7 linked regions of the Homo sapiens genome follow. The protein of the gene in region 3 purifies or fractionates together with the protein of the main gene of each other region. This does not show direct contact. Each region holds a gene or a part of one and is shown on either strand. Other genes may lie near its edges.

Region 1 (4,094 bases), on a different chromosome or scaffold from region 3:
GACCCTCCACGCTGAAGCCCCTCATCTCTATTTCAACTCTAGCATTCATTCTCCTTGCTACCAGGACAAAGGTCAAATCATACCTGGAGCTGGGAAACAAAGCCCTCTCAAATCTGAATATGTGTTTCACGAGGAGAGAGAGAGCAGCAGAGGGGACCACGAGGAAGGCAGAGATTCCCTGACCACCTCATGCCTTTGTACACCACTCGCCTTTACTCTCTGGATTAAACAGCATTAGGGAGACAAGAGAGGAAACACATGTGGTGTCTGGAGACCTGTGCCTGCCTGTTCCAGTCCCACACCCAGTCATCTCACCACACCCTTCACCTCACTTTACCTTCTCCTCCAGCACAGGAACTAGGAACTACGGAGAGAGAAGCCAAGGGAGAGGAGGAGGAGGAAACTAACGATTCCCTGCCCACCCCCACACCCAGCACCACCAACAGGTGGGCAAGCTTGCCGAGAAAACGCAGAGGGCATCCTGTGAGCAGCAAACACATCTGAGCCTGGAAAAGACGCAGAGAAGTAAAAGATCAAAGGTGAGGTAGGGGACGTGGAGGAAAGTGGGAGAGACAAAAGGAAAACAAAAAGTGGGGGATCATGAGAAGCAGAGGCAGGAAATAACAGGGCTTCAGACTTGGGTGCAGAATGGAGGTGGAGGACACAGCACAGATGGCATAAGAATTAATATTTCCTTGGTTCCTCCCAGGGAGTCCTTTCTCAACTTTGTAAGGCGTGCACAGAGGTGGCAAGGAAGCACCTTGCTCCTCTTCCTGGTTCTAAGGAAAAGGTGACCTTGAGCCAGTGGGTGTCTTTCCCAGTGCCTGCCTCTAACCCTGTGCTTTCTCCATATCCTCCTCTGGTATCTGTGTTTATTCCGCGGTTTCCCCGCGGCTGCCCCCGGGAGACCGAAGAGGTGGCTGGGGCAGGCCGAAAGCAGAGGAAAGGTTGGGCAGTGTCACCCTTGCACACCCACAGGGTAGACGGATCGAGTTTCAGCTTAAACCGAGGGGTGTGGGGGAAGGGTGTTGGGTTCAGCTAGTCCACGTGGGTGCTGTCCTCCACTTGGTGCTGAAATCTGGGCGGCCACATCCCCGGGGCGGGAGGGGGCTACATCCCCGGCTTTAGACGCGCGAGTCTCAGGTCCCGCTAATTACCTGGCGGGTGCTGCCCACCCCTGCCCTCGCGCACCTAGCGCGGTGGCAGGCGGGAAGGCGGGGCCTGGGGGAGCCCCACCCCTGGAGACTGCGGCTGGGGCCTCCCTCTCCTCCGCCCGCCCGCCTGCCACTAGCTCATTGCGCCTCTCCTGCAGTCTGATTGGCACCGGCTCCCATTCCGGCTCCAGCCTCCAATCCGACCCCCATTTCGGCTGCAGCCTCGGACCTAGCTCCGGCCCTCGGTCTATCCGGTTGCATCCTCCCTCCCTGTTCCGGATCTTATCTTGCGCCAGCGCCTACTCCAGGATCCCGTAGCCAGACCTCAAGCCATGGCTGGTCCCTTCTCCCGTCTGCTGTCCGCCCGCCCGGGACTCAGGCTCCTGGCTTTGGCCGGAGCGGGGTCTCTAGCCGCTGGGTTTCTGCTCCGACCGGAACCTGTACGAGCTGCCAGTGAACGACGGAGGCTGTATCCCCCGAGGTAACAGTGCCTGAGGCGCGGGAGGAGGCGGGGGCAGGAGGTGATGGGAACGAAGGTGCGGGTAGAAGTGAGAATCCGGGCAACAGAGAAGGGCTATAATCACGAAGGCCCTGGAGCTGGAGGGCTGTGCAGTCTGCAGACCTCAGTGGGGTGGGGGTGGGGGCCAAAACCATAAAGCAAGAACATTCCTGGGGACCTGCCAAGACCAGCTCTGGCCCTACGAGTTCTAGCTGCACTGGCTGCCCAAATCCCTAATTGTAAAGCCAGGAACTATCCTTTTCGCTCCCCTCCATCTCCTTCCCTCATTTCCTCAATTCCTCTCCTTAGGCTTTTCCCCTCCTCCATCCGTAGTGTTGTGTCATGGGAGGAAAGAACTGAGCAGATCTGAAGAAACTGAGCTGGCCAGCCAGAGGCAACTAGAACTATTAGGAAAGCATAGACTCTGAAAGTCCCTAAAGAGATTACCAAGGTTTACCCTCTTTCTAATTCCCCCTCCTCCCGCGGAGCAAAGCCAGACATGGCCAACTGGACAGCTCCCAGGTAACTGCACTAGGTCTAGGCGTCTGTGCCCTCCCTCCATGGTTACTGGGTACCCCCTCCCCAGCGCTGAGTACCCAGACCTCCGAAAGCACAACAACTGCATGGCCAGTCACCTGACCCCAGCAGTCTATGCACGGCTCTGCGACAAGACCACACCCACTGGTTGGACGCTAGATCAGTGTATCCAGACTGGCGTGGACAACCCTGGCCACCCCTTCATCAAGACTGTGGGCATGGTGGCTGGAGATGAGGAGACCTATGAGGTAGGGGGTCCCCAGAGTCTCCCTGATGATCCAATTCATCTTCCCAGTAATCCCAGCTCCTTTCCCCTAAAGACCTCTCACTTTCCCCCAAGACTCTGAGCCCCCCATACTTAAGTTTTCTGAACCAGTGAAATCAATGCACAATTGAAGTCTGGGGAGGGATTCCCTCTCCTTAACCATCTCTCCCTCTTAACTCCCCTTAGGTATTTGCTGACCTGTTTGACCCTGTGATCCAAGAGCGACACAATGGATATGACCCCCGGACAATGAAGCACACCACGGATCTAGATGCCAGTAAAGTGAGTTCAAATATCCCACTTCTGATTTGCATTGCCTGTGTACAACACTCTGTATCTCCAACCCCTTCACCTTATTTCCTGACTCATGGTCATTATACAGCTGAGCTTTTAATCTTAATGTAAGGAAAGAATCATATCTTAAGGGGCAGCATATATGGAGATGGAAGGATAGATAAGAATGACCATGACCCAAGGTGGGTGGTTTGGGGAAAGGTCTGCAATGCCCCCTTCAATTCCAGTGCTTTCCCAAAGGGCCTCTTCTTCCAATGCATGCAGGAAGAATGCACAAAGAGTCCTCTAATGCCTAAGGAAGGTCTCTCCTTTCCCAGGGGCCCTCAGTTCCCACCGTGTTTCTGTGACTTACATTCATTTCCCTTATCTCCCAGATCCGTTCTGGCTACTTTGATGAGAGGTATGTATTGTCCTCTAGAGTCAGAACTGGCCGAAGCATCCGAGGACTCAGTCTGCCTCCAGCTTGCACTCGAGCAGAGCGACGAGAGGTGGAACGTGTTGTGGTGGATGCACTGAGTGGCCTGAAGGGTGACCTGGCTGGACGTTACTATAGGCTCAGTGAGATGACAGAGGCTGAACAGCAGCAGCTTATTGATGTGAGGGCCTTAAGAGGGTGCTGGTTGGTGGGAGCAGATGGGGAAGGCTGGGCCAGATGAGACATGGGCTCTGAAAGGCCCAGGGGCCACCATGAAGATTCTTAACCCAAGTCCCGTTACTCTTCCCAGGACCACTTTCTGTTTGATAAGCCTGTGTCCCCGTTGCTGACTGCAGCAGGAATGGCTCGAGACTGGCCAGATGCTCGTGGAATTTGGTATGAAGCTGCTCATTACCTCTTTTGTCTTCATGCCCTCATAAATGCTTTTTTTCCCTCTATCTCTCCCAATTCTTGCCTTGCCTCTTGATCACTGTCCCTCTCCGGCCCTCAGGCACAACAATGAGAAGAGCTTCCTGATCTGGGTGAATGAGGAGGATCATACACGGGTGATCTCCATGGAGAAGGGTGGTAACATGAAGAGAGTGTTTGAAAGATTCTGCCGAGGCCTCAAAGAGGTTAGAGAAGATTGTGTAGGGGAGCTAGGTGGGAGGACATAAGGAAAACCAAAGAGTAGCATAAATAGATTATGTAATTTATCAACCAACCCAAGACATGTCTGATGGTAAAAAGGACTACCTAGGACTCACTCTAGGACTAAAGGTATAAACCAGCTGGGACCATACTGGGAAAACCAGGACATGTGGTCACACTAAGATTAGGAAAAGAGTGTCAGGAACCTTAGAAAGTGAAGAAGGCAGGTAATGCAAAGAAGGAATAACTGAGATGGCACGTCAGTGCCTGGGATGTGTG
Region 2 (3,500 bases), on a different chromosome or scaffold from region 3:
GATGTGTTTCTTACAATGAACCTCAGTCAAAAAAGTTTGGAAAACGTTGGCTTAAAATAATAAAGCATCTTGTTTGGAACTCACATCTTAAATATACCTAATATGCCGGAAAATATTTAAATAATATTACCATGTATCAGTGGCTTTTAAACTTTGACTGTGACCCACAATAAGAAATTTGTTTTATGTCATAACTTAAACACTCATACATATGTGTACACACAGACACACACAAATTTTATGAAATAATACTTACTCTTTTTACATATGATGCATTCTGGTATTTTCTTCTGTTTCATTAAGTAGCATTGCTGGTCAGGACCACTAAACTAAACACTGGTAATGGTATTTAATTTACTGAAGCACATCCATACCTTCATATCAGTACTTGAAGAAAGATTAAGAAGGGAATAAATCTTTCCATGCCAAATTTCTTTTCAAATTTCTTTAAAATAGGAAGTTCCCAGCCTTTACACAAGGATTTAGTTTGCAAAAGTTAAATAACCATCAAATTAATCAGGATCACACATCTTGTGCAAAACAGGGTAGACCTGCCTTCCCTATAGCTGGGGAACATGACCTGGATAGTTTCATTGTCTTGCCCTATGATTTAAGTCAGAGGCATGGCAATGCTAGAATTACCTCCTAGGCCAAGCTTGTCCCCTTGGGAAAGGAAGCATGTGTGAACCTGAGGAATGGCAATGGATTCCCATTGCTGAGTTAGCAGTTTGTCTCGAACAGCCATAAATCAAGCAGTTTTCTAGCTGAACAGCAGCTAAGGACAGGGGAGCGGGAGGACTTGTAGGAAGTGTGGGAAGTGCCTGTTCCCGCCACAGTGCAGACACAGAAGCCACACGCAGAGGGCAGTGAACATCAGAATTTGGTGCTGTGTAGAGAGAGACTTGCTTCCTCACCCAAGGAATGACAAAGAGAGGGGAGGATCTCTGGACACTGGAGAAGTTTTAATCGCAAACTGCAGAGGATGTGAGCAGATGGGTGCATTTGGTTAGGGCTGTGGTTTCCATAAGTAGAGGACAGGAGCAGACAGCTTGGGGCAAAGTCTTTGAAGGGGGTGCGTTGTGGCGTGAGGAGGGAAGGGGCTTGGGTGCAGGGGCTTTGAGGGTCCAGCAGGAGGTAGGTTGGATTCAGGCTGTCTGTGAATATGTGCTGATTGAATGAGTGGATAGAGTGGGTAGTTGAGGTTGTAAGAGGCCTTGGAAGCTCATTAACTCTGACTGATGTGGGATGTCTGGTTCTAATGTGGGACCAAGGTCTCCTGAGTGACAGTTTCTGCCCTTGGGAGAGGTGAGACCTGATGCTCATCTGTAGGAGTCTGACTGGGGACTCTTAGTTTCCCTGGCACCAAAGAAGGCTGGTTTGAGGGAAAAGTGAAGAGACTACAGCATAAATCTTTACAAGGGAGATCCATCCAGAGAGTCCATGCTCATGAAAGAAACAATAGTGCTGTTTCTGTGCTTGTTCAGGGGCTACAAGAATGGGTGGACTTTGGGGAGTCTGCATGCTCTCCAGCTAGTGTTGCCTGTGGGGAGCAGGTTTGCAAGGTTTGGGGAGCATTTTGGCAGCTTTGGAGAGAACATTGAAGAAGGATGGACCCTTAAGGCCCAAGGGAGTGATTGGTAGAGCCTCTGGAGCAGGACTGGGCCTGAGATGTGGGCTCTGGAACTTGATGCTAGAGAGACAAGGTGATAAGATGATGACTCTGGGTGGTCCCTTCTCCTCTTGCTCCATGCCTGCTTCTTGTCAGTTGAACTTTGACTTTTGGTCCTGAGCTGACCACTTGAAAGGAGGTTGTGTTTCCTCAGTGTGTTACCAATTTTCTAAGGTGTCAGTGCTGGCTGCAAAGAAATGACCACTAAAAATGTGCTTACCCACCCACTGCCCAGTTGCCCTCCAAAAAGGTCATGCAGTGTACACTCCTGTTTCCCTCCATGCTCACCAATGCTGAATATTATTCATTTTCTTTCTGCCAAAATGATGCCCAAAAATATCATATTTAAAAATCTATATTTCCTTGATATCTAGCGTTGAAGAGTCTATAAACTAGTGAAACTAGTGACCACTTTGTAGTTCTTCTGTGCATTGCCTATTTATATATTTATCTATTTTTTATTGTGCTCTTTATCCTTTAAAAAAGTGGATTTGTGGTGCATGCCTATAATCCCAGCTACTCGGGAGGCTGAAGCAGGAGAATCGCTTGAACCCGGGAGGCGGAGGTTGCAGTGAGCCAAGATCGCGCCATTGCACTCCAGCCTGGGCAATAAGAGTGAAACTCTGTCTCAAAAAAAAAAAAAAAAAAAAAAAAAAAAAGTTGATTTGTAGGAATTCTATCACTTTTGGTGATGAATCCTTGTTCTGTTACATATGGTGAAAGGAGTTTTCTCCACATATCAGGACCACTACTTGCTTTTGTTTATGGGATCTTTTTCCATGCAGAAGTTTAAAATTTGAATGTAACTGGATTTGTCAATATTTTCTTCCAGAGTTTCTAAGATTTGTGCCTTGCTTATGAAAGGTTTTCCCAATCCGAGTCATAAAAATATCCCCTGACATTTTCTTTTAATGCTTATATTTTTAAAAATTCTTTAATTCATCTGGATTTTTAAAAATCTGAAGTGAGGTAGCAATCTATTATTTTTCTTCTTGAATTTTCATAACATTATTTCTTGTTTAGTTCTTCCTTTCCGCATCAATTTGAGTTCTGCTTTTTATTTTCTAAATTCTCACATATTCTGTTTGTCTAGTGTCTATTTAGTTCTGTTGACTGATTTGTCAATTTCTGAACGTTTTTCCTGCTTTTTTTCAACTTCTTTTAATAAGATTTTTGAAAATCCTTGAGCACTCTTAGAAGTAGACCTTATGCCTCCTTATCACAGTCAAAGGAAGGGATTTCTGATGAGCAATTTTCAGGCATGTGAAGTGTTAAAGTTATTTGGGAAAGAGGGTGAAGGTGTGAGGATGGGGGACTGATGAGGGTGGTTTCTACCGGCCTCTCATCACTGAATTCATTTATTCAATGGAAGTGTATAAAACACTTCATTGTGAAGTATCAACTGTGAGCTTGCCTACAGGCCACAGGCAACTTGCTCTTCTCGACAGAGGCATTTGTGCCTATTTCTATTATCCCCCAGTAGGCAGGCTGGCTGGGAGGAGCAGGTCACCAGAAGATCCAGGGACCTTTGTTAGGGAGCTTCTGCCATCTTGGAGAAGCCACAGGATTTCTGGCAATGTCTCTCCTGGTTTAGGTGTCTAAATGCTGTATTTGGAAGGTAGTTGGAACTCAACAGATTTGGACTTGATTCCAGCTTCTGCCATATCCTAGCTATGTGACTTCAGCAAGTTCTCTAAATTCTTTAAGTGTCAGTTTGCTTGTCTGTACTATAGGGATAATTGTAATATCTGTCTTAGGATTGTTGTGAAGCACAGTGCTGGATGTAAAGTACTTGCTCAAAAAATGGTAGCTATTGTTACTAGTAAATCTC
Region 3 (2,377 bases):
CCCCGTCTCTACTAAAAATACAGAAATTAAGCAAGCATGGTGGCACATGCCTGTGGTCCCAGCTACTCAGGAGGCTGAGGTGGGAGGCTTGCTTGAACACAGGAGGGGGAGGCTGCAGTGAGCTGAGATCATGCCACTGCACTCAAGCATGGGCGACGGAGCGAGGCTGTCTCAAAAAGAAAAAACAAAAAGCAGACTTTACTTACTCTAAAGAGGATATAATGGAGTTCAGAATGTGACTTTCCAATCAGGGGAGCACCAAGCAAGAGCTGCAGGGGGCAACGTGAATGGAGGGCTTGGCCAGGAGGGCCTCCCACCACCACCTCAGCTCACCAGGCTGACGTGAAAACCCCAAGGAGATGCGTCATTTTTTGACCAACCGTGTAAAGTTGTGACTGGATGTCCTAAAACAAACTGCCACACAAGGACTAGGGCAGTGAGAGACATTTCAAGTTAAATGCTAAAGTTTCCTCAGATAAGGTCTTCCACATCACACAAGAAGCTATTGCACATCACTCCTTTATTATACTGATATGGAAAAAGGATTTAGTACAGTTATGCTCAGATGAACACTGGACCCATGTGGCAGGGTCAAGCAACTAGAACATGATTCAGAAATCAGTGAAAGATACACTTGGACAGGACCAAGAGGCATTTCACTGCCATGAAACAAGGCAGGAAGGGATTCTAATACACACACCAGGAAGCACTCCTGCCCCTCAGAGGTCAAGGAGCTGATCCTATATTGGTATGAGGAATGGCTTATTTTCTGATGACCACATGTGGGACTATTTCAACCGCCACAAGAAACCCCAGAAGGGTTATTGTTTTGTATTATATATACTATACTTTTTTAATAAAAGTAAATTAACACATAACGAAATTCAGGATTGATCCCAACCTAGAGCCAGATCCTCTGGGGTCAGGGAGGAAACAGTTGTCACATCACCACGCAGGTTACATTCGTCTTCCACTGGAATGACTAGAGCCCCCAGGCAGTAGGCAGTGACCTGACTGCAGAAGAGCAGAGGACAGACTCCGCTCATGGGGACAGACAGGCTCTGTTGCTTCTCCTCACTGGTCATGGCTTAGCATGGTTCCTCCCCAAAGTCCTTAGTAAACAAAGCACTCGCAAAAACCCAAGTCACTACTTTTAAACTCTGTTGGATAAGGGGAGCTTTTCCATAGCTTAGACTGAGAACCTGTGCTCTAGAACTGCTATTCTGACTAGATTGTATGAAGGGAGTGGGTGCAGGCGACAAAATGGCTAAAATGAAAATGGGAGCCACTGGTCCCCGTCTGCAGCTACAACTCAAGATGTCTACAGATGTGGTCAGTGTGACATGTGCAGGTGGGAGGGGCAGAGGGACAAGACGGGCAGGGAGGGTGCTCCTGGGGACAGTATCCTCCCCGCCGGCCTTCACTTCTTGGCCTTGCCCTGGGCAGCCACAGCTTCCATGGCTTTGCGCACCGTCTCTTCATCCCCCAGAAACTGCATGGGCTTGATAGGCTTCAAGTTCTTGTCCAATTCATAGACAATGGGAATACCAGTCGGCAGGTTCAGCTCCATGATAGCCTCTTCAGAGAGACCTGAAAACATCCACCATCATCAGCCACACAAGACATAAATCCACATCACCCCTCCAGGTTTACTTTGTCCTCCAGGTGATAAAGGACTTTGACAGAAATTAAAATAAGACACCCTTTCTGATCTTTATAGTAGTTCTGAACCCAGGGAATGGCCCCCACCATACTTATTTCTCAGCCATTAAACTGAAAAGCAAGAAAAGGTATACAAGATAGACCACCAACAAACTACAGCAAGGTATATGGCCAGATATCTCTACCAAAGTGGGATCTAGAAGCCCACAGTGAAGCAAGACTACACATCTCAAATACCCTGTACAGCCCATCCAACCAAAAATCAGCACACGTGGGCCTCTAGGCCCTCGGGGATGAAGATGCAAATTGAGATTCATGTGTAAAGTTGTGCCTGGTTGTGACTAAGGAGAATTTTTTCTTTTATATATATTTGTTTTCCTTTTTTTTTTTTTTAAGAGACAAGGTCTTACTCTCTCACCCAGGCTAGAATGTAGTGGCACAATCATACCTCACTATAACCTCAAACTGCTGGGCTCAAGCGATCTCCCGCCTCAGCCTCCTGAGTAGCTGGGACTACAGATGAGCATCACCACATCAAGCTAATTTTTCATTTTTCTTTTGTACAGACAAGGTCTTGCTTTGTTGCTCAGGCTGGTTTTGAACTCCTGGCCTCCCAAGGTGCTGATAGTACAGGCATGAACCACTGTGCTTGGCCTTTTAAAATTTTGTAGAGATGCAGTCTTACTATGTTGCCCAGGCTGTCTCAAACTCCTGG
Region 4 (3,500 bases), on a different chromosome or scaffold from region 3:
GCTCTTATGCAGAAAGTATCATATGTTCCCAGCCAATTTACAGGGAAACAGCAATAACATTTTATCATGGTTGAGAGCCCAGTAGCTGCTTCCTATTAAACTTGCCCTTTCAGATACCTGTCTTGGATTAATTTGTTGATTTCGAATGGAAACTCAGTCTTCTCCAGTGAAGCATGACGTTCTAGGATAGACTCTGAATGACAATTACTGTGTATTCTAGCTGGTTTCAGACCATTACAAGCCTTGGGCACAGTGGAAAACAGAGGACTTCAGTAACTGATTTTAATATCATGTCTAATTTTAACTGTCAGTTATGTATGTGCCAGAGAACGAATCCTCAGAAAGATGAAATGCAAAACACTTCTAACTTGCTCTTTTTAATGATACACTTTGCTGCGGGTGGGGGCAGGGGGAGGGAAGTGGAGAGGGAATAACTATCTCCTGAAGGGAATCAGCACGGTGGGGAAGCATCAGATTTGAAAAGTGAGAATGAAACAACTGCCACCTGATTTTTTGTGTGTGCCCCTCAGGATGCTTCTAAATAGTAATGTGTTCACCAGAAAGGGTTTCCATCAATCAATACCAGTACTTTTCCTTGAACATTCAAGAAAAATGTAGGGTTTTACAAAGTTAGGATAATTAGCTTTGCTCACCATTTTGTTGAATATTATAGAAAAGAGTGAATTTCCTTAGCTGTAAAAGCTCTTGTGAGCTACTACTGAGTGTAACCTGGTAGATTAGAAAGAAGGAAGGAATTCTGCTGCTTTAAATATGATGAACCATCTTAAAAGATCTAAGTTAGGAAGCCCTGAAATTATATTTCAAATGGAGAGAGAAAGTGACGTTTTGGAGTCTTTAAAAGTATTTTCTCCTTATGGAGCATATTAGATGTATGCATTCTTGAACATTTGGTACTTTGCAGTTATAGCAAATTAACTAATTGTTAATTGTGATTTTACTTTTCACAATTATTCCCTAAGCACACTGGCTTTATCTTTTCCTAAGTGATATACTACAGTAGCATACTGATAGCCTAATCTTATTTAAAAGGAGAAAGCAAGCATCAGTAGCATACTATGCATGCAGTGAACTTGGATCTTTATAAAAGAATGAATGAAACTGTTGGGTTTCTCTCTGGGAATCTACAGTTGAACAGAATGAATGATAGCCAATTTAGACTGAATTTCTGTATCTGTTACAATCCTTAGTAAAATCCATCACTATAACATGGGCCACCATATGAATTCAGATACATGATATGCCACATAGCAGTCTGGGAACCACAGCTACCCCTTGAAAGCCTGATTACATAACAGTTGTATTATGTGGTAATTCCATACATATTTTTGGCTGTTAGCCTCAGCCCCCTGCTCTAGCATCTGAAAAAATGTTTTATTGGCCATGATATTCAGATTTTGAAATAAACAGGCATGTGTTTTAGACACACAGAGTAAACAATCTGAGCGTGCCAAGATGCACAGTTTGTTTAACATTTACATAAGTGTCTCTTTTCAGTGTTTTTTTTATTTTCTGGAAGAGGTTGGTTTTAAGAAAAAGTGGAAAGCTTTTATGACAATTGTTTCATAATGGCTCTGTGTATGAAAGAAACCAAATAAATTGCTAGGAATAAAGTTTTATTTGAAACTTGATTCAGTGATACCTAGCAAAATTGTGCTTCCCAAACTGCATTATATCTTTAGAATCCAAGTAATGGAGCATTTTGATTCTATTATTTTTTCTAGGGTCCACATTGAACAGCCGTTTATGCCATCAGCCCAGTGATAGAACAAATGATGTTTCTGCTTGGGCAAGCTTTGTTTTATCAGGATCAGTAACCTTATCAGCAGTTGACCCAGAACTATAATGCATGTCTCTGAATAGATAGCATATGTCACAACTCTGTGCAGACTTGCTTCATAAGCAAGATTGTCTAATAAAGATTTAATAAATAAGGAAAAGTTTGCAGCAAAAAGTCTTCTTTTATAATAACTTTTCTTAAGCTCGTTTACAGCTCCTGGCTCATCTCTTGCATTTATTCTCATAAAAACTAAAGGAATAAACATACATATAAATGCATTCACACAGACTCCCATGATGCATCGTTTATCTGTCAGTATTTCTTTCTGAAATATATCATTTGTGGGTAAAGAATGTAGAATTTAAATTATCATATTGTTTTAAGGTTCTTATGTGACATATAAATGTAGTAATGTCCAAAGACTAGAAAACCCATGAGTGTGATAAACCAACAATATTTTTATGCAATTGTATATTATTTTTTCTTAATAATAGGATAACATAGAAGGTTTTCTCCAAATGCAAAATGGTCCTGGCTCAAAAATATTCTTATTTAACCAGTAGTGTTTAGTACTCTATAATTCAAAATTGGATTCTTCACTCTCGTATCAACCTGCTTAGATTTTAGAAGACATATAATAAATGGAGAGAGAAGATGGAGCATCCCCATACATAAATAAGTCACGCACGACGTGTACATTTTGACACTTAACACTTCTTTTCTTTGACCTTTGACAGGTTAGGGCTTGACCCAAAACTACTGGCTAAAATCCTAAATATGAGCTCAGGACGGTGTTGGTCAAGTGACACTTATAATCCTGTACCTGGAGTGATGGATGGCGTTCCCTCGGCTAATAACTATCAGGGTGGATTTGGAACAACACTCATGGCTAAGGTATGGTAAATGTAGACACCCAAGAGAGAAGGAAAAACGTTTCACGGTCCAATAACACCTTCCTTCTCTTTCTCTTAATAAAGCATATGTCTCAGGTAAGAGGCAAAATTACTAGAATATTCACTCTCACTGAAAATGAGTAAAAACCTAACTTAGATGAAAATCCTTATCTTGTTCATTTTTATTCCTGGCCTTTTGGTTGAGAAGAATGGGCCAGACCATGTGTGTGTGTGTATGTGTGTGCGTGTGTGTGTGTGTGCGCACTTGGGTTTATTTATATGAGCCGGTAAAATTTCGTTCACCATTAATTTATGTTAATTTACCAACTTCTTAAATGAGAACAGTGAGAATTTTCTCATTGTTAATAATACACTGGCAGTGCATATATGCATCACGAAGAGAGGATTTTCCCATTGATAATAGATTTCCAAATACATCTTCCTGCTTTAAGATTTTAATATATGGATTTATATATAAAAACTAGTTAAGTCATTGGAAAAGCAAACTGTCATCCTTCTCTTATTTGAGATCTCAACTTTAGAAAGTCTATGTTCTCAACTACAGAAAATAATTTTTAGACCAGCTAACTTTCAGATTTCTGCAGTGCTTATTTTCTCCCAGTTGAGGGTTGGTTTTTGTTTGTTTGTTTGTTTGTTTGTTTTTCCTGATTAAAAAGTAAGAATACGGCCAGGCGCGATAGCTCATGCCTTTAATCCCAGCATTTTGGGAGGCCGAGGAGGGCAGATCACCTGAGGTCAGGAGTTCGAGACCAGCCTGGCTAACATGGTGAAACCCAGTTTCTACTAAA
Region 5 (2,880 bases), on a different chromosome or scaffold from region 3:
ACTGGGGAAGGTGGAGGATAGAATGGTTCAAGTTCTAGAATATGTGGCTCTAGATGAGAGGTTGAACTGAATCATCAATCCTACATGGATTGGGTCTCCGTATTCAAGTCTACATTAGAAATCCCCATAAACTCAATTCAATTCTTACTGTATGTTCTCAAACATACAGTTCTATTTTAGGTTTGCAAAGAAAAAGAGCTCCTCTTTTAGATTCTGAGAAGTTTCTACTATTTTTGGCAAGTAATAGATAACATATTCTGACTATGAGTGGGTAGGGAAGTACCTTTAAATTATATGCCTCAGTTTCCTCATCTGTAAAATTGGGATAATGAGATTTTCTACATTTTAGGTTGTTGTGGGGATTAAGTGAAATACAGGTAAAGTACTTGGTCCACAGTAAGTGCTTAATAAGTGTTAAAGTGTTAGCTGCAATATTATTCTGGATGGAAGAGTTTCCCCCCATGTTCAGCATGTAAGATATCCCCTATGGCATGGTTCCTTCTGAACTATAAAGAGGATCCCTTTACTCATGTTGGGTTGTGGTCTTTGTGACCATCATTCTGCTAGATCCCTTGTCTCTTGAACTCTAATAGTCATCTTCATGACTACATGGTTAAGTGAAGCCAAACGCCTTCCCCCCGCCCCCTATTCCTATGAATCTGGCTTTTCTGCTCTGTTTTCATCTTTCTCTGCATTCACACAGGTGCTCCGTTCACAGCTAACAGAATGTTATCTTACCTCTTCCTGGCAAAGCTTACACCTTCATCTTCTGTCTGAAGGGACCCTTCTAAGCTCTAGGCTCATTAGCAAAGCAAAGATAATCGATGCATGCAGACCTCATTGAATAATCAGTCATCTCTCAGTTCAGTTTACCACCTCTGTTCATTTCCCTAGATCATCCTTAATACACCACTCCTTCGAGTTTTCTTCTTCCACATAAGATATTTTTTCACAATCTCATTATTATGCACATCATAATTTTGCATCATGCATGCATGAAAACAATAACAAACCTTTTTCATTTAAAAAAAGACCAATGTCATTCATTCACAGCCAAGTTTCTGTTCTAGACATATTTCTAGTGTTCTTGTGGGTCTAGCTAAGGGAGGGTCCAGGGTTAATGAAATATCCCTGATTTTTCGTTAACAAAACCTTTGTGGACTCAGGTGGAGAGACTTATCCAAGAACGTGGCTGGGAGTTCATGTGGAATGAGCGTTTGGGATACATCTTGACCTGTCCATCTAACCTGGGCACTGGACTTCGGGCAGGAGTGCACATCAAACTGCCCCTGCTAAGCAAAGTAAAGGAGTTGTGGGGTTACAGAGGGGTGTGAGTAAGGAAGGGTGGGTTGTGGATGGGGAGGGAGTGGACCCTTTGGAAAGGAGCCAAACATGTTGTGGCTAAAGGGTCAGAGGACAGGCCAGGCACAGTGGCTCATGCCTCTAATCCCAACACTTGGGAGGCCAAGGCAGGCAGATTACTTGAGCCCAGGAGTTCAAGACCAGCCTGGGCAACCTGGTGAAACCCCATCTCTACTACAAATACAAAAGTTAGCTGGGTGTAGTGGAGGCTGAGGTGAGAGGATCACTTAAGCCTGGGAAGTCGAGGCTTCAGTGAGCTGTGATCACTCCAGCCTGGGTGACAGAGAGAGACCCTGTCTAAAAAAAATTAAAAAAGAAAAAAGAAAAAAGGAAAAAAAAAGTTCAGGAGACAGAGCTCTGAGCAGGTTCAGGGCTCTTTCAGGTAGGACTAGTCTCTGCCTCTATTGACCCTGCTCCCAATCCCTATCTCCTCTCTAGGATAGCCGCTTCCCAAAGATCCTGGAGAACCTAAGACTCCAAAAACGTGGTACTGGAGGAGTGGACACTGCTGCTACAGGCGGTGTCTTTGATATTTCTAATTTGGACCGACTAGGCAAATCAGAGGTGAGATCCTAAGGGATTAGGACAAGGAGAGGTATAGGTCTGCGAGGGCCGAAATATGGCAGTGAGTGAGCCTCCGGGATGTAAGATAATCTGAAATGAAATTCAGGTTGAGTGGGGAGGCAATTGGAAATGAGCAGGCAAGTCAGTCAGTGATAAAGAAAAACTCAGACTGTAGGAAGCAGATCAAAGATTAGTGTCCCTTAGGTGGAGCTGGTGCAACTGGTCATCGATGGAGTAAACTATTTGATTGATTGTGAACGGCGTCTGGAGAGAGGCCAGGATATCCGCATCCCCACACCTGTCATCCACACCAAGCATTAACTCCCCATCGCCAGCTGATGACTCAAGATTCCCAGGAGTTCTGCTCATTCTAATGATGGCCCATTCTACTTGCTCTGGACCTGCCCCCGCATCCCCTGCCTCCATCCTAGTAAAGACTCCTTGCTATGCTGCAGCTGTCTGTGTTACTTCTAATGGTGGGGTGAGGAGGGAGCAGCCTTCAGGAAATGAAAAGAGGCAGTGGGATTATTTATGATGGAAAGAGACTCCAGATATGGCAACCCAGGAACACTGATTCTCAGGTGGGTGGAAAGCATTAACATTTTACCCATATTCCTCATCAGCTTCTGAAAATAATCAGGATGCACTTCTGTTTGCACTTTATTCATTATGACTTAAGATTTCTCTCCCCACAATCTCCTTCTACTGTAGAGACAGGCTCATAGCAGGTGGCCAAGGAAGCTGATAGTCAATACCAGGGACCAGGAAGGTCGTGACCAGTCCTGGAGGCCCCAGGCTGTACTTCGACCTATAATAGACAGGGAATGGGAGTAATATCACAACTCAGCTCTCCAGGAGCATTGATACTTGGAAATTAGCGCTCTGCCTGTAGACTCCTTCACTCCAGGGATCTCCCTGGGTGCACTCTAAGAGCCAGACAGCACCAAATTAGGG
Region 6 (3,500 bases), on a different chromosome or scaffold from region 3:
ACCCCCTTCCCCTGCTTCCACATACCCCCAAGTTGTTAGGAATCATTTTCCTTTTTATCACCTTGTATACTTACAGAAAGCCAGGAGATAAATACCCAGACCTCATTCTTCATCACTCTGATTTTCTGCTGGCACCTCCCATTGTCCCATTGCCAGTGACAAGGGATCCCACAGGTGTAGTCCTTAAGGATCAGCCTTCTGGGAAATAGCACAGAGTACTGAGGCATGGAGAATGAATCTGGAGAGGTGAATGGAAGATGCCGGATCAAGGTGTATCACCATAGTTGCAGGAGACTAAAAATTAATTATTAGGAATTTAGAGTGAACTTGTAACTTAACTAGTCTAACCTCATTTTACAGATCAAAGACCTAAACCAAAGGAAGTTAAAATGACTTGTTTGAGCCCATGAGTTATTAATAATATAATTTGTGAATGATTTCTATGTGTCACACACCAGTAAGCACTTGTAATAATTTTCTACTGCTGCATAACAAATTACTACAAACTTTGCAAGTTAAAGCAACAACTGTTAACTCAACATCCATCATTATTATTATTATTATTATTATTATTATTTTTGAGATGGGGTTTCACCCTTGTTGCCCAGGCTGGAGTGCAATGGTGCGATCTCGGCTCACTGCAACCTCTGCCTCCTAGGTTCAAGTGATTCTCCTGCCTGCCTCCCGAGTATCTGGGATTACAGGCGCCCGCCACCACGCCCAGCTAATTTTTTCTATTTTTAGTAGAGACGGGGTTTCACCATGTTGGCCAGGCTGGTCTCAAACCCCTGACCTCAGCAGATCCACCAGCCTCAGCCTCCCAAAGTGCTGGGATTACAGACATGAGCCACTGTGCCCAGCCAACATCCATTATTTTTCAGGTTAGAAGTCTGGGATAGGGGAGCTGGCTTAGCTGTCTATGCTTAGCACCTCAAAAAGCTGAAATGAAGGTGTTGGCCAGGCTAAAAGTACTCACCTTTAAGTGCGAGGGAAGAATCTGCTTTCAAGCTCATTCTTGTTGGTAGAATCTATTTTCTGTGGTTGGAGAACCAAGGTCCCTGTTTCCTTGTTGGCTGTCAGCTGGGGGCTGGCTACTCTCAGCTTCTAGAAACCAGTCACATTCATTGAGGTACAATGCCTTCCATCTTCAAAGCCAGCACCACTGCTTAGAATCCTTCCTGCACCTCACATGCCTCCAACTTCCTCTTCTGCTGCGAGCCAGAGAAAATTCATTGCTTTTTAAGGGCTCACATGATTAGAGTAGGCACGCCTGGAAAATCTCCCATTTGCCATATAAAAGTAACATAATCATGAAAGTAACACCAGGGGACAGAAGTCATAGGGGCCATGTTAACATTCTGCTTACCACAGCACTGTATGTACCTGATTGTACCTAATCCTCCTAATATTTATTTTATTATGTATGAGAAATCAAAGACGTAGGAAAGTTAAATAACTTACTAAAGTTATGGCTTATAGATGGCAGAGCTGAATTTGAACTCAGAGTTTTCCAAAACCTTTCTCCATGGCAGAGTAGATATTAGAATGCACATTTTTCACTCTCAGGGCCAGTGAACTTTGAACTGCACCAGGCTGTCGCCTCTGAAGTGTGATTGTTGTGACACAGACATCCTTGTGGACAAAGGTGTACTTTTACTGTGAGCTCTCTCCTTTTTCAGTGTGCCCATGATTACAACAGTAGAGGAAAATAAAAGGTTCAGGAAGCCTAATAATGACCCAATAAGAAACACTATCTGCTGGGAATGCTTTCAAGTAATATATAGAGATAAAGAGTGTTTATTGAAATGTATGACACAGACCCAAGGTTTCCAGGAGTTTATAGCCAGTTATTTCACATTGAAGGTATAATTAATATAATTGCAACCATGTCATTTATCATATTAAGTAACAGAATTATTGTTTTGCTTTACCTTTGTTAAAGTCTCCTAATAAAACAGTTGCATTTTATTAAAAATGCGTTACTTGATTATAACATACATCTGTTCAGAATTTCTGATTGATTTAGAGCTGGGTGAAAACTAAAAATTCCCTACCATAAATGGATTAATACTTGTGTTGAATTCTGTCACAGAGGCCCACACTTAAATCCATATATGTATATCCCTGTTACAAAAGGGCAGCTTCCAACCCTTTTAAATTATGGTTTGTAGCAATGCCATGGCCGTGCTTTTAAATCACTGTGAATGCTGGCAGCATGTCAAAGCACTCTAGTTTCTACTGCTTGCCTTGGAAAAATAGTAAGTTTTACAAATAGTGATACAAAAAAATTTCTTTTGGGAGAATAAAGGATAGTTTCTTGATTTTTTTCAGCTTGAAAATGTAAATATGTTTATTTGTCTGAGGCAATACTTTTGGTAGTTTTGTTCTTGCATTCGCTCTCCCAGGCTCGCTCTTTCTCTCTCTCTCACTCCTTCCCTCCCCCTCGCTCCTCCCTTTCCTCCATACATATTAATGTTTGCATATATATGTGTTAATGGTGCTAAATTCTTTTTGTACAAACAACTTTTTATACAAATAACCCTCCTCCATCCCCACACCTTAGAGCTTCCCAATCTGCCAATCCACCTTTGCACCTTTTTAAAAGAATCATGAAAAAGACTTTTAAACTAACTTAATTCTGAATCCCCTTCCCTTTTTTTCCCCATAGAACTTTTCTTAACATCCTATGGAGAATCTGGAGAGAGAACTGCTCAATAGGACAGTTTAGAAAATTTAGAGGTTTGAAAACTGTGTTAAATATGGGAACTGATTTATATACTCTCTTAAAACTATCAACTCAGTATAGCACAAATAAATAAACAAGCTGTTTAAATCTATATATATCATCAGAAGTTACTTATGGATCATCTGATGAAAGATAATCCACACACCGTGCAAACAGCCCCTTGCACATGGGTATTGTGCTCACCCATACTCTGTTTGTGTTTTTGTTTTAGGTTTGTATAAAACCACGTTTTTAAAGTTCTTCATTTTCTTAAGGGTAGAATCTGGGTTAGTTTAGGCTGAAATTGAATATGTGATAAACGTCCCACTTATTCTCAGGCCGCTCTTGGATAACAAGATCACAGTGGCATCCTTTTCTTCTCCAATTCCACAACAAGGTTTTTCTTTTAATAAATGTATTGGATTGCTTCCAAATGACTTTGAAAGTTTTTATAGGTATTTCTAAAAGTAAAATGTTTTAGTTTAAATGTGGGAGACTCAAATATAAAACACTGTAGATTAGAACTCTAAGAAAAATATTTTTAAAACCTAAAACTAGGTAAGTGGTAATAGCACAGATTTCCACAATAGATAGCTCCTGGCACCTGGTGCTGATTTTATAGTATGTTTTCTTGCAGAGTAGTTTGTAGCTGGCTCTTCTCCTTGTAGAAATGGAGCTCCAGTGTAAGGCTTCTGGAAGGGATGTGGTCATCCCAACTGTTTTAATGATGACAGCTCTAGTTGAAGAGCCATCCCACCCTTCTTGGGTCACATTC
Region 7 (3,500 bases), on a different chromosome or scaffold from region 3:
CTATCCATGACTTCTTCCTCCCCCAAAAAGGCCCGAGCAACTCCAGCCCCTAAAGGAATCCCAGCTTCCCCATCCCCCAAAGGGGCCCCCACACCCCCAGCTGCAACTCCTCCCTCCCCTAAAGGAGGCCCAGCTACCCCATCCCCGAAATGGGCCCCCACACCCCCAGCTGCAACTCCTCCCTCCCCAAAAGGAGGTCCAGCTACTCCATCCCCCAAAGGGGCCCCCACACCCCCAGCTGCAACTCCTCCCTCCCCCAAAGGAGGTCCAGCTACTCCATCCCCCAAAGGGGCCCCCACACCCCCAGCTGTGACTCCTCCCTCCCCCAAAGGAAGTCCAGCAGCTACCCCATTCCCCAAAGGGGCATCCACACCCCCAGCTGCAACTCCTCCCTCCCCCAAAGGAAGTCCAGCAGCTACCCCACTCCCCAAAGGGGCCCCCACAACCCCAGCTGCAACTCTTCCCTCCCCAAAAGGAGGTCCAGCTACCCCATCCCTCAAGGGGGCCCCCACTCCCCCAGCTGCGACTCCTCCCTCCCCAAAAGGAGGCCCAGCTACCCCATCCCCCAAAGGGGCCCCCATGCCCCCAGCTGCAACTCCTCCCTCCCCAAAAGGAGGTCTAGCTACCCCACCCCACAAAGGGGCACCCACAACCCCAGCTGCAACTCCTCCCTCCCCAAAAGGAGGTCTAGCTACCCCACCCCCAAAAGGGGCCCCCACAACCCCAGCTGCAACTCCTCCTTCCCCAAAAGGAGGTCTAGCTACCCCACCCCCAAAAGGGGCCCCCACAACCCCAGCTGCAACTCCTCCTTCCCCAAAAGGAGGTCTAGCTACCCCATCCCCCAAAGGGGCCCCCACAACCCCAGCTGCAACTCCTCCCTCCCCAAAAGGAGGTCTAGCTACCCCATCCCCCAAAGGGGCCCCCACAACCCCAGCTGCAACTCCTCCCTCCCCAAAAGGAGGTCTGGCTACCCCATCCCCCAAAGGGGCCCCCACAACCCCAGCTGCAACTCCTCCCTCCCCAAAAGGAGGCCCAGCTACCCCACCCCCCAAAGGGGCCCCCACTCCCCCAGCTGCAACTCCTCCCTCCCTAAAAGGAGGTCTAGCTACCCCACCCCACAAAGGGGCCCCCAATCCCGCAGTTGTAACTCCTCCCTCTCCAAAAGGAGGCCCAGCTACCTCACCCCCCAAAGGGGCCCCCACTCCTCCAGCTGCAACTCCTCCCTCCCCAAAAGGAAGCCCAGGTACCCCACCCCCCAAAGGGGCCCCCACTCCCCCAGCTGTAACTCCTCCCTCCCCTAAAGGGACCCCTACTCTCCCAGCTACAACTCCCTCCTCTAAAGGAGGCCCAACTACTCCATCCTCCAAAGAGGGCCCCACTCCCCCAGCTGCAACCCCCTCCCACAAAGGAGGTCCCGCTATGACTCCTCCCTCCCCCAAAAGAGGACCAGCTATCCCATCTCCCAAAGGGGACCCCACTTCCCCAGCAGTGATTCCTCTCTCCCCCAAAAAGGCTCCAGCAACTCCAGTCACCAGAGAAGGCGCAGCCACCCCATCCAAAGGAGATCTCACTCCCCCAGCAGTGACTCCTGTCTCCCTCAAAAAGGCCCCAGCAACTTCAGCCCCCAAAGGAGGCCCAGCTACCCCATCCTCCAAAGGGGATCCCACCCTCCCAGCAGTGACTCCTCCTTCCCCCAAGGAGCCCCCAGCCCCCAAACAAGTTGCCACTTCTTCCTCTCCCAAAAAGGCCCCAGCAACTCCAGCCCCCATGGGGGCCCCCACTCTGCCAGCTGTGATTCCTTCTTCCCCCAAAGAGGTCCCAGCTACCCCATCCTCCAGAAGGGACCCCATTGCCCCAACAGCGACTCTTCTCTCTAAAAAGACCCCAGCAACTCTAGCCCCCAAAGAGGCCCTCATTCCCCCAGCTATGACTGTTCCCTCCCCTAAAAAGACCCCAGCAATTCCAACCCCCAAAGAAGCCCCAGCTACCCCATCCTCCAAAGAGGCCTCCAGTCCCCCAGCAGTGACTCCTTCCACTTACAAAGGGGCCCCATCCCCCAAAGAGCTCCTCATTCCACCAGCTGTGACTTCTCCTTCCCCCAAAGAGGCACCTACTCCTCCAGCTGTGACTCCTCCATCCCCCGAAAAGGGCCCAGCAACTCCAGCCCCCAAAGGGACTCCCACTTCCCCACCTGTGACTCCTTCCTCCCTCAAAGACTCCCCTACTTCCCCAGCTTCTGTCACATGTAAAATGGGGGCCACTGTTCCTCAAGCATCTAAAGGGCTTCCAGCAAAGAAAGGCCCCACAGCTCTGAAAGAAGTACTTGTTGCCCCAGCTCCAGAAAGCACGCCAATCATCACAGCTCCCACTCGGAAAGGTCCACAGACCAAAAAGAGTTCTGCTACTTCACCTCCTATATGCCCAGATCCCTCAGCTAAGAATGGTTCTAAAGGACCCCTTTCCACAGTGGCTCCAGCCCCTCTACTCCCTGTTCAGAAAGACTCTTCAAAGACAGCAAAAGGCAAAGATGCTTCTCATTCCCCAAAGGGCCCCTTGGCTCCTCCTGAGTCTAAGGCGTCCACCCCTCTAACAGCAGCTGCCTTTGAGAAGGTCCTTCCTAAACCTGAATCAGCATCTGTCTCTGCAGCACCCTCCCCACCAGTCTCTCTGCCTCTTGCTCCCTCCCCAGTTCCCACTCTGCCTCCTAAACAGCAATTTCTGCCGTCCTCTCCTGGGCTGGTGTTGGAATCACCCTCTAAACCCCTTGCCCCTGCTGATGAGGATGAGCTGCTGCCTCTGATTCCCCCGGAACCAATCTCTGGGGGAGTGCCTTTCCAGTCGGTCCTCGTCAACATGCCCACCCCTAAATCTGCTGGAATCCCTGTCCCAACCCCCTCTGCCAAGCAACCTGTTACGAAGAACAACAAGGGTATTTGCCTTGGTTTGCCGTGTGCATGGTGTGTCTGTCGTCCACACCCCTCTTGGGCGCTACCCACCAATACTAACCCTGTGATGCGCCGCTTTCTCCAGTGAATCTGCTTGGGTTTGGATGTAGAACATAGAATGATAATTTTAAATGCAAAAGTTCTAGGAATATGAAACCAAATCTTGGTTTTCATTACTTCAGATAGATACATAGTACATTGTGTATCATTTTTGTGTAATGTGGCCCGGACTACCCTGAGCCTGCCATGCCATCTATTTTACCTAATTGATCTGACATTGAAAACCAAGACCTGCCAGACCTTTTCATTTGCTCTAATCCCTACCACATCACTAACTAACCTTGTCCCTGGGCCTGAGATTTGGTAAAATTATTGGAGAATTGAACTATTTGTATTTATTTTTCCATTATTAGACTTAGTAATGACCAGTTGCCCAGGGACTCCCTTTTCATAAAAATGTAGAAATCTGTTTTTCCTAGCCTGAAAATGGTGCAGGTGTATGCTTTTTTTCCTCAGTAGTCTTTACTGATGCTTGGCCTTTGAATTGAAAGAAAT

Evidence for each region.
Region 1: the proteins of PGAM1 (region 3) and CKMT1A fractionate together in Homo sapiens (co-fractionation; one large-scale study listed by BioGRID). This does not show direct contact.
Region 2: the proteins of PGAM1 (region 3) and PHGDH fractionate together in Homo sapiens (co-fractionation; one large-scale study listed by BioGRID). This does not show direct contact.
Region 4: the proteins of PGAM1 (region 3) and HIBADH fractionate together in Homo sapiens (co-fractionation; one large-scale study listed by BioGRID). This does not show direct contact.
Region 5: the proteins of PGAM1 (region 3) and CKMT1B fractionate together in Homo sapiens (co-fractionation; one large-scale study listed by BioGRID). This does not show direct contact.
Region 6: the proteins of PGAM1 (region 3) and TES fractionate together in Homo sapiens (co-fractionation; one large-scale study listed by BioGRID). This does not show direct contact.
Region 7: the proteins of PGAM1 (region 3) and NACA purify together in Homo sapiens (affinity purification with mass spectrometry, with the first as the bait; one large-scale study listed by BioGRID). This does not show direct contact.

What each region holds. Positions count from the first base shown.
Region 1 is NC_000015.10:43,692,565-43,696,658, forward strand, and holds the start of CKMT1A (creatine kinase U-type, mitochondrial isoform 1 precursor), read left to right. Parts: upstream 1-1,294; 5' UTR 1,295-1,486; coding exon 1,487-1,635; intron 1,636-1,962; exon of another isoform or gene 1,963-2,146; coding exon of another isoform or gene 2,147-2,239; coding exon 2,240-2,438; intron 2,439-2,641; coding exon 2,642-2,737; intron 2,738-3,123; coding exon 3,124-3,345; exon of another isoform or gene 3,346-3,346; intron 3,347-3,474; coding exon 3,475-3,560; exon of another isoform or gene 3,561-3,564; intron 3,565-3,675; coding exon 3,676-3,799; intron 3,800-4,094. UniProt on the Homo sapiens protein: Reversibly catalyzes the transfer of phosphate between ATP and various phosphogens (e.g. creatine phosphate).
Region 2 is NC_000001.11:119,714,934-119,718,433, forward strand, and holds part of PHGDH (D-3-phosphoglycerate dehydrogenase), read left to right. Parts: intron 1-3,500. UniProt on the Homo sapiens protein: Catalyzes the reversible oxidation of 3-phospho-D-glycerate to 3-phosphonooxypyruvate, the first step of the phosphorylated L-serine biosynthesis pathway.
Region 3 is NC_000010.11:97,431,568-97,433,944, reverse strand, and holds the end of PGAM1 (phosphoglycerate mutase 1), read right to left. Parts: intron 1,591-2,377; coding exon 1,421-1,590; 3' UTR 501-1,420; downstream 1-500. UniProt on the Homo sapiens protein: Catalyzes the interconversion of 2-phosphoglycerate and 3-phosphoglyceratea crucial step in glycolysis, by using 2,3-bisphosphoglycerate. Also catalyzes the interconversion of (2R)-2,3-bisphosphoglycerate and (2R)-3-phospho-glyceroyl phosphate.
Region 4 is NC_000007.14:27,530,384-27,533,883, reverse strand, and holds part of HIBADH (3-hydroxyisobutyrate dehydrogenase, mitochondrial isoform 1 precursor), read left to right. Parts: intron 1-2,535; coding exon 2,536-2,692; intron 2,693-3,500.
Region 5 is NC_000015.10:43,597,027-43,599,906, forward strand, and holds the end of CKMT1B (creatine kinase U-type, mitochondrial precursor), read left to right. Parts: intron 1-349; exon of another isoform or gene 350-1,166; coding exon 1,167-1,301; intron 1,302-1,800; coding exon 1,801-1,926; intron 1,927-2,130; coding exon 2,131-2,247; 3' UTR 2,248-2,380; downstream 2,381-2,880. Other genes in the region: STRC (stereocilin precursor), read right to left, coding at 2,646-2,734. UniProt on the Homo sapiens protein: Reversibly catalyzes the transfer of phosphate between ATP and various phosphogens (e.g. creatine phosphate).
Region 6 is NC_000007.14:116,238,039-116,241,538, forward strand, and holds part of TES (testin), read left to right. Parts: exon of another isoform or gene 1-294; intron 295-976; exon of another isoform or gene 977-1,211; intron 1,212-3,500. UniProt on the Homo sapiens protein: Scaffold protein that may play a role in cell adhesion, cell spreading and in the reorganization of the actin cytoskeleton. Plays a role in the regulation of cell proliferation. May act as a tumor suppressor. Inhibits tumor cell growth.
Region 7 is NC_000012.12:56,715,300-56,718,799, reverse strand, and holds part of NACA (nascent polypeptide-associated complex subunit alpha), read left to right. Parts: coding exon 1-2,929; intron 2,930-3,500. UniProt on the Homo sapiens protein: Cardiac- and muscle-specific transcription factor. May act to regulate the expression of genes involved in the development of myotubes.